Linked DNA regions of Homo sapiens: regions 2 and 3 are each reported to be linked to region 1. Evidence: microRNA targets listed by miRTarBase, many of them from high-throughput screens and not tested one by one. Region 1 holds a microRNA gene; each other region holds the end of a gene's coding sequence.
What was found. Region 1 holds the annotated microRNA hsa-miR-641 (AAAGACAUAGGAUAGAGUCACCUC, at 1,584-1,607, shown strand). A microRNA usually pairs through its seed, bases 2 to 8, with sites in the 3' UTR of a target mRNA and lowers its output. Matches are read on the target gene's strand: a 7mer-m8 pairs with bases 2 to 8, a 7mer-A1 pairs with bases 2 to 7 and ends in A, and an 8mer does both.

Region 2: miRTarBase lists IQGAP2 as a target of hsa-miR-641. The part of its 3' UTR that is shown has no 7-base or 8-base seed match.
Region 3: the mRNA of NBPF3 is a reported target of hsa-miR-641. Seed matches in the 3' UTR shown: 7mer-m8 at 1,351-1,357.

The regions. Positions count from the first base shown.
Region 1 is chr19:40,280,966-40,284,209 of GRCh38, reverse strand. It overlaps MIR641 (microRNA 641), which reads left to right and starts at 1,569; the gene lies at 1,569-1,667. The region is part of intron 1 of AKT2 (AKT serine/threonine kinase 2); the gene reads left to right.
Region 2 is chr5:76,706,980-76,709,979 of GRCh38, forward strand. IQGAP2 (IQ motif containing GTPase activating protein 2) reads left to right here. Exons shown (of 36, transcript NM_006633.5): 36 at 221-1,153. The coding sequence ends at 334. Among named protein-coding and RNA genes, the nearest start is that of NCRUPAR, 3.9 kb to the right of the region's middle.
Region 3 is chr1:21,482,795-21,485,794 of GRCh38, reverse strand. NBPF3 (NBPF member 3) reads right to left here. Exons shown (of 15, transcript NM_032264.6): 15 at 895-2,652. The coding sequence ends at 2,409. Among named protein-coding and RNA genes, the nearest start is that of ALPL, 25 kb to the left of the region's middle.

The DNA of each region.
Region 1 (3,244 bases):
CCCAGGGAAGCTCTCTGGGGGCATCTTGATCTTGGGATTGTGAGGACCTCTTCCTCTCATTTGGAGACCTCTTGGGGCTCAGCAAGACGCCTGGGCTGGAGTAACTAGAGCCTCCAATGGGCTGCTTTTCAACTTCATCCACTCCTACCTTCCCAGAGAAGCAGCAGGAGTTCACTCGTGGGCTGAACTTGGTTGGCAGTGGATGTGAAGGGTCCAGGAACCAACGCAGACCACTACATGCTCCTCTGTCGCTGGCCACGAAGCTGTTTGTGTCTCCCAGTTACCAGCTCGGTCACACATCATGTTTACACTCCCCACCAAGGCAGTAACAGTTGGCCTTGCAGTGAGGCCGGGAGCTGTTTTCCCAGCTGTTCCTCTTTGCATAGGCCAAGGGGACTTGGAGTGGGGGTGCCCCTGGCCCAGCCTGGCCCAGGGAGGAAGGCTGCTCTGAAGGGCTTGGGACAGTCAGATCCCCCATGGATCTGGTGTCTTATTGTGGTCTGTGGGCTGGTGCTGGGAGCAGCCAGCCCCAGAGGTCTGTGGCCAGTGTCCCTGCTCCCTAGGCCAGATCATGACCTTGGCTTGCCCTGTAGCCTTTGCTCTGGGTCTGGAGTTCCCAGAGGACTGGCTGCAGTCCCTGATTGACCCAGCAGACCTGGGCTGGTGATGTGGTCAGAGGGGGCAGATGGTTGCCCCTAGTCCGCAGCAGTGACTTCCAAGCTGACTGGCTTCCGTGGCTCGTGGTTCCTGGAGAGAAAGGTCCCACAGTCTGTGAGGCAGCGGCGACTCTGTAGAATCTTTCTCCACTAGGGGTTTGTTCCTCTGGTCCTCTCCTGCCAGCTTTTAGAGGGTTTGCCTGATGGGGCTAACAGTGGCAGTGAAAACAGTAATCATGAAATTGATGGCTGACAGTAACTGAGTGCATTCTGTGGGCCACACACTGTTTGGAATGCTTCATATAGATAAACTTGCTGAATACTTGAATTCTAGAGCGGTAGGCGCTGTTGTTATGCTCTCCCTTTTAGATGAGAAAACAGCATCTCAGAGAGGCAGATCATTTCCAGAGCTAGTGGATGCCCAGTGTTTATAGCATTCACCCCATGCCAGGCGTGTGACAGGGCTTTTGTACATGTGATCTCACTTAAGTCTCAAAACATACCTGTGGTTAGGCCTATTTTATGGAGAGCTACGAGCTAGTTAGAAGTGTGATACCATTTTACAGATGAGGAATCATTTCACTCACTGTGAAGTGCAAAGATTTCCCAGAGGTCTCATAGCTGAAGTGGGAGAGGTGTGATGTGAGCCCTTGGCCAACCTTGGCCTCAGATCGTCTTGTCAAGGAGAAACTGGAGGAGTGGCTTTTGTCTGTGAGCATATACTCTGCCCAGCCCTGTGCTTTGGGCTTTATATGGTATTTGTGTCCTTTTTTGCAGAGTCCGAAATTGAAGTTCAGAGGAAGAATTGCCTTCCACCGCATCTTATCAGACCCTATGGGTGCCAGGGTAGGATTTGAACCCAGGTCACTGAGCCCCTAGTGCCATGCATTCCTTGCTCACCAGGTTCCAGGCTGGGTGAAAGGAAGGAAAGACATAGGATAGAGTCACCTCTGTCCTCTGTCCTCTACCTATAGAGGTGACTGTCCTATGTCTTTCCTTCCTCTTACCCCTGAGCCTCAGGCTGCCCTGAGCATCTCTGCCTACAGCCAGTCCAGCATTTCTTGGTCCCTCCTCAGAGTGGAGGCAAGGCATCCTTTAACCCTGGGCAGGTGTGTGCTGGGAGAAGAAGACAGCAAGAGAGCCATGCAGGGGGTGACACAGCTACCAGGGACCTGCGTTAGCTAGCAGCAGGACGGTGAAGTCGGTTCTAGCTCTGCGACCTTGGACCACACTGTTCACTCCCATACAGTGGTCTCAGAAGGACGTCCACCTTGGGCTGTTGTGAGGATTAAATGAATTAATCCACGAGAAGCTCCTAGAATGGTGCCTGGTACTGTGTAAGTCTTGGTTGGCAGTCATGATTATGTTATGGAACGGAGGCATCCAGCCTCCCCCACCCCCTACTTTTGGTCCCCTCGAGCATTCCGGGATCCAGCTCCCCAGCCTGGCCCAGCTAGGATCCAGAACTTCAATGTTCTGGTTTCCAGCCTCTGTAAAGAGGTGTATGGAAGCGAGTGAGAGCACAGGGTTCAAATCCAGCCGTGCCACTCCATGGCTGTGTGACCTTGAGCAGGCTCCCCAACCCTTGTGAGCTCATTTCATCATCGGTGCCATGGGGATGATGATAATTCCCACCTGATAGGATTATTGTGAAGGCTGAGTGGATTAATTTGTGGGAAGCATTCATAACTGTTCTGGCATACAATAAGCCTACCGGAAATGTCTCCTCACTAAGAACAGTGCCCGACACATGGTGAGCTGTTGGTCTGTCTTAGCAATTGTAATTCTTAGTATTTCTGCCGGGACTTTGAAGGCCTTTGCCAGTTCACAGAACCGTGTCAGAGAGCACTAGGAGGAGATCAGGGCTGAAATTAGCATCTCAGTTTTACAGATGCAGAAACAGAGGTCGGGGGAGACATGCAATCAAGTCAGAACTGACAAGGGCAGCTCCCGGGCCCACTCCTCTTCCACGCAGTGGCTTTGCAGCCCTGAGCGCCTCCAAGGTAGACACACTGGAGTCTTTTCAGAGGTCAGGCTCTGTGCTTGTTTTTTTTTTTCTTTTGAGACAGGGCCTCCCTCTGTCACCCAGGCTGGAGTGCAGTGGTGTGATCACAGCTCACTGCAGGCTTGACCTCCTAGGCTTTAGTGATCCTTCCACCTCATCCTCTTGAGTAGCTGGGACTACAGGTGCATGCCACCATGCCTAGCTAATTTTTAAATTTTTTGTGGAAACGGGAGTCTCGCTATGTTGCTCAGGCTAGTCTTGAACTCCTGGGCTCAAGTGATCCTCCTGCCTCAGTCTCCTGAGTAGCTGGGACCGTAGGTGCATGCCACTGCCCCTGGTTCCCAGCCCACCACAGCTCACAGCTCTGGGAGTGGCAGGAAGGCTGGGCCTGGGCAGGGGGAGCAGCAGAAGTGCCTGCAGGGGTTGGCAGGGGCTGTGCTGCACTGGCCTGTGGGCCTGGGTGAGAGGTGAGGATGGATCCTAAGGGTATTGTGGAGCCGAGGAAAAGGTTTCACTCATCCGCCACCATTTACTGAACACCTCGTATGTGCCAGCGTTGCATCAGTACTGGGAATACAGCAGT
Region 2 (3,000 bases), not on the chromosome of region 1:
TGGTGCCATGGCATGCGCCTGTAGTCCTGGCTACTCGGGAGGCTGAGGTGGGAAGATAGCTTAAGCCAGGAGTTTGAGACCAACCTGGGCAACATAGTTAGACCCCACCCAGGTGATTAGGTCAATTGAATCTGACTTTTGTCAACAAATTCTTCTAATATGTTTTTTAAATGCACAAAATGTCAAAGTTGAGATTTAATGATGCTTTTTACAATTTCAGGATTTACTTCAGATGCAATATGAAGGAGTAGCTGTAATGAAAATGTTTGATAAGGTTAAAGTGAATGTAAACCTTCTCATATACCTGCTGAACAAGAAGTTCTATGGAAAGTGAAGTGCCTACAGAAATTTCTTGGATTCTGTATCATCTGGATTAGGAAATGAATTTGTTTAATATTTTTGTTTTTAAACATGATTGAAATCACTGCTTATAAATGTGTGATTTTTTTAAAACGACCAAAACTGTTCTGAAGAATGTACCCAGGTGCCTTTTTGCTAATTTGATACTATAATAGAATGAGACATAAAATGAATTAATGGAAACATATCCACACTGTACTGTGATATAGGTACTCTGATTTAAAACTTTGGACATCCTGTGATCTGTTTTAAAGTTGGGGGGTGGGAAATTTAGCTGACTAGGGACAAACATGTAAACCTATTTTCCTATGAAAAAAATTTTAAATGTCCCACTTGAATAACGTAATTCTTCATAGTTTTTTTAATCTATGGATAAATGGAAACCTAATTATTTGTAATGAATTATTTAGACAGTTCTAAGCCCTGTCTTCTGGGAGTTATCAATTTTAAAGAGAACTTTTGTGCAATTCAAATGAAGTTTTTATAAGTAATTGAAAATGACAACACAATAACACTTTCTGTATAAAAGTATATATTTTATGTGATTTATTCCTACTAAATGAAAGTGCACTACTGCCTCATGTAAAGACTCTTGCACGCAGAGCCTTTAAGTGACTAAGGAACAACATAGATAGTGAGCATAGTCCCCACCTCCACCCCTCACAATTTATTTGAATACTTCAATTGTGCCTCTCAATTTTTTGTAATGCTAAAAAATCAGTATCTAGATGGTTTTTAAATGTATTCTCTGGAAATTGTTTTATGTAAAATAAATGTTACTTAATTCCATTAATTTGGCTTTTAAGTTGTCTTAATAAATCAAAGTCATTTAGTGGGTAGGGGAAGATTCTTGGTCGGGTTTGTTAGGAGAGAATACATTTCTTGCTGTACTGGTTAAAGTAGAGAGCAAGCTGCTGTAAGGAAAAGATACAAAACCCTGGTGTCTAAAACAAGGGGTAGAAGTTTGTTTTTCTCAAATTCAGCTCAACGGTGAGCAGATCCACAAGGTAAAGAGTTTCCAGGTGGGTCAGTTGGCTCTGTCCTTGTACTGATTCCCCCCAGCCAGATGAGGAAGAGGATGACGAAGAAGTCCAGGGCAAGCCTTTTCAGTTATACGCATCACTTTAACTTCCACTTACATTGTATTGGCCAAAACTGAGTCATGTGGACACAGCTAGCTAAAGATAGTCCCTAACTAGGCAGCCATGTAGCCAGTGAATACAGAGAGGTAGAGAGGGAATTGGGTCTGTTATTAAAAGGAAGAAAAGGAGTGTGATTCCTGCTGACAGTTTAGGAGTCTTCACCACAAAAGGATTCCAGACTCTCAGGCTGGAACCTCCCTGCCACTTTGTTCATGCCTGCAACAGGCTTTATTTTTTCACAAATTGCAAAATATTGAGAAAGTAGGTTAGTTTATGTACATGTGGCACAAATAAACTTGAAGGGTAAGACCAACAGAATTTGGAAAATTCAAATTAAAAAAAGTAAAATCTGCTACTTTAGTGATGGTTTCAGGCTATGTATATTTTTTTGACAAAGAGATGAATAGCTTAAAACAATGCTCACTATCTCAACAGTTTGCGGGTATGTATGTTTTGTAATGCATTAGCCTTAATGCAGGCTTTGGTAGAAGGAATTAAATATACAGTTAAGTTTCACGTTGAAAATAAACCTCCCTCTTGCCCTACTGCTAGCATTGGAAAGGGGAACAGGAGCCAGGGGCAATGAGGGGTGGGCAGGGTAAGCTTCCTTCTTGCTCCGGGCAAGGCTTTTAGTGGAAATGTATAGAAGGAGCCAAAATTAGGGAGCAATGTTTTGGAGGCAAAAGCCAGCCTTTCCCAGCATCTCTGAAAGGAGCTTATCTTAACTTATTGCAACACTGAATGATATGCTTGAATGTTATTTGTACGAATAAAGATATTTGCATCATGTCAATACCTTCAAGGAACGCTGTGAATGATTTCTCTGTTGGCCCACAAGATGAGGTTATTGTTGAAGACATCACCAATTGCTATTTGTGTGAGATCTTTAAGCGGTATGAATGGGTGACCTGAGAAGAAGGCTCATGATGAAGGAACAAAACCAAGGGCCATCGGGGCCTGGGTGTAGCAGACTTCAGTTTACAGAGATTTGTTGGAGCCAAGTCCTGTGCTACTCTTTAAGAGGACTAAACTGTCCCTCAAGCCAGAGGACAATTCTTGATAACCCTGAGCCTGAGCCACTAAGGACTCCAACTTCCTCCCAGAGCCCATAGATTTTTCTTACTCAATGGAAAAGGTTTTTTGTTGTTTGGGTTTTTTGTTTGCTTGCTTTTTTGCTTTTAAACACTGAGCAATTGGAACTATAACTTATTTTTGCAAAACTGACTCCTGTATTTTGATTATTTTGATTATTTTGATCTTAAAAGCAAAAAGTACTTATGCAACACTATAGGTGCTCTCAAAGGATATGCTTTAGTGGTCTTCAGGAGAAGGAAAATATGTGTATGCTTTATTCTGAAAGTTAGTGGTGAAGAAAGACCAGCTTGGTGTGACCGTTGTCTGATATGAATGATCTCAACTATAATTATACGTTAGTGTTTGTGTGTGGTTGGGCACAAATTAGAAATGCTATTCATGATGTGATTTTTATGACTTTGTC
Region 3 (3,000 bases), not on the chromosome of region 1:
TGGGAGATGGGGAGGCATGGACAAAGGAAGCATCCGCTGGAGACTCATGGTGAAGAGAACAAATGAAGTAACTGGCAGAAATTATAGGTCCTGGTAGAACAAAATAGAATCCCACAACGAGAACATACACCATGTATGTCCCGCAAGGAAGACAATAGCTCCTAAAAACACAAGAAAAATCATTTTGGGCAAACACCTTATATCCAGTAATGCGATCCATGTATCAAGACCGTGAGGAAGATTATTAAACATGCTAAACTCAGCGAGACCTGATTCCCTCATGAGGACTCTGTTAGGATGAGTACCACTCAGCAAGTGATGACTGTGACATTCACTTTTGAACAGCTCATGAGCATTAATATATTTAATTGTGGATCTAAACCAAAAACCAAGGTGTGGGCAAGATGACAACCACAGAATGTCACTGGTGTATGTTTAGGTTCAAATACGATTATGAGAAGTGGCAGGTAAAGGAGGTAGGAAAAAGAAAACACATCATGTAATTGACTGTCATATGGAAATATGTGATGTTGAAAGTCATAATTTAAAACGTATAAACCAAATATTAGAAGTGTGTCTAGTTCAAAGGGGGGAAAACTATGAAACATTTTTAGTCAATATCAAACATGAGCTACACAACCCTTCCTAAATGCCAGAGGCACACGCAGACACACACACACACACTCTCACAAAGAATATAAATATCTAGAACCAAGAAATGGAGTACATGCATTCTGCTACATATGGTAAACATAGCCTACAAGGTGGAAGAGATTAGAAAATAAACAGGGAAATGAAAATGTTTTTATTAATTCGCATCAGTACCCACCAAAACCAATCAGCATAACAAAAGATTATAACGCTGAATGTAAAAAACAATCCAACAGTCCAGAGTGATAGGCAAAAGTTTTTAATTGTATAGATTAAAATAACTTTGGACAAAAATTAAAACTCAGGCAGAGAATGTTTTTTTTTCAACAACACACACTAGCAAAAACAAAGGCACAGTAAACATTGAGGCAGCAAATTTCCAGCGTAGAGATATGAATATAATAATAGACACAGGCAGGGATGATTAATAAATGATAAAACGTTTAGAGGATGATCACTGGAATACAGGACATTTCTACTTTGAAAAACCACTCTCCCAAATACTTCATCATAAGTAAGGTGTCTCTAAAAGGGACAGATCTCCTAGACCCCTCCTTAACCAAGTAACCAGTCCTGATATCATGATAATGCTGATGGACAAACTAGACCTTCTCTGCCCACAGATGGGCTGAGGTTGGAAACTCACAGTATCGACTCTGTAGTGTTCTTGATGAAACGTTTAGGCTGAATTTAATCATGAAGACATTTTCAGACAACTTCAGAATGTAGACCATTGAGCCAGACAGCTGACCTGTCCTCTACAAACAAGTCCATGTCACCAAAATCAATGACAACAACAAAAAGATGAGGAAATATTTGGGGTTCAAAATAACTAAAGAAATGTAGCTACATTATCATTTACTTCTTCTGAACCCAAAATATCTCTCCTCCTTTTTGTTGTGTGATTCGTGGTGACGTGGACTGTGTGAAGGAGACAGGTCAGTTGTCCTGCTCAGTGTTCTACATTCTGCAGTTGTCTGGTGATTACCTCCTATGAAACTCAGGCTAAGCATTTTCTGCAAGAACATGGCATTGTTCATATTCTGCACTGGCAGAGTCCCAGGTGACATGCTGTCTCTTGCCAGCGGCTCCTGACTCCTGTTCTTTACAGGATGGAATTGAAAGGAGCAGGACTAAGGCCTCCCAATGCTGTTTGTCCGTCTAGCTGTGGTCTTCCTAAGTATTGATATCAATTGGAGGCTGAAGGACTATGGCTTCTCTACTCAAAGGAGCCTAGTGGGTTAACAACTGTCAAGAGCAGTCAGTGGTTCTGAAATACAATCCTCAGCCAAGGATCCCTCCTGTGTTACAGATGGATCAGCTAAAACAAACCAACACTGAAGATACAAAGAATGGGGTTAGGTTCAATGAAACCAGGGTAACACCTTTGGATGAGCTAAACACAAAGATGACACTGACCTTGAGCAGGTATAGAAGCTCAGAGACATGCCTGCAAAATGAAACCCCTGAGGAACTTTGTAGCTACCCAGAGATATCTGGTTCAAATTAGAATGTCTGGCAGATCACTCCCGGCATGTGCTACATAGTCGTGTGAACGTGTCACACCTAACTTGGGTCCAACGTCTTCAGACTGAGCACAGGTGGCCACTGGCATGGTCTGAGAATAGGAATAGAGCCATGCCCACTTTCCCATCCTATGACTGGGCTTCCAAAGGGAACTACAGTTTCATTCAAACCTACATGTGCCTATACGTCCTGCCTGCAGCAATGACATCTCTCAGCTTAGTAAGGGCTGCTTAGTGTGGGAATATGACTCCCATCTGGAAGGCCAGGTGGTGCCTTATCACTGTCAAAGTAAAAAACCTATTGTCCACGTCAAGGGCCAAGCTGACGTCCTGTTCCTCAAATGAGTAAAAGGCACTTCTATACTGCTGGAATGAGGCATGTAGTTGAAAGTAAGTTGAAGTAGTCGAATAACATCTATCCAGTGAGTCCTGCAAGACTTCAGGCTCTTCTGCTTCCATCAGCACCTCGTTGAGCCTGGAAAAGGAGACAAAACTAAAGAAGCAGCCAGGGAAAATCAGACACCACAGAGCCCCAACTAGATTTCAGGGGTAACATAAGGAAGTGGTCAAAAAAGGAAAAGGATAGTTCCATTAATGAGGTAAAAAAATTATTGCCTTTATGTTGGGATAGAACAGGGCCAAGTAGAAAACAATGAAAGAGAAAGACAGAGAGTGAGAGAGAGAGACAGAGAGAGAGAGAAAGTGAGCTCAGTGAATTGGCCAGGTGACACATTGATGAGGGAGTAAAAGGACACTGTGAGTTAGTGCCCTCAGGACACACAGCAAACAGTGATCATGAGAAGAGTGAGCTCAATAGTTTTCC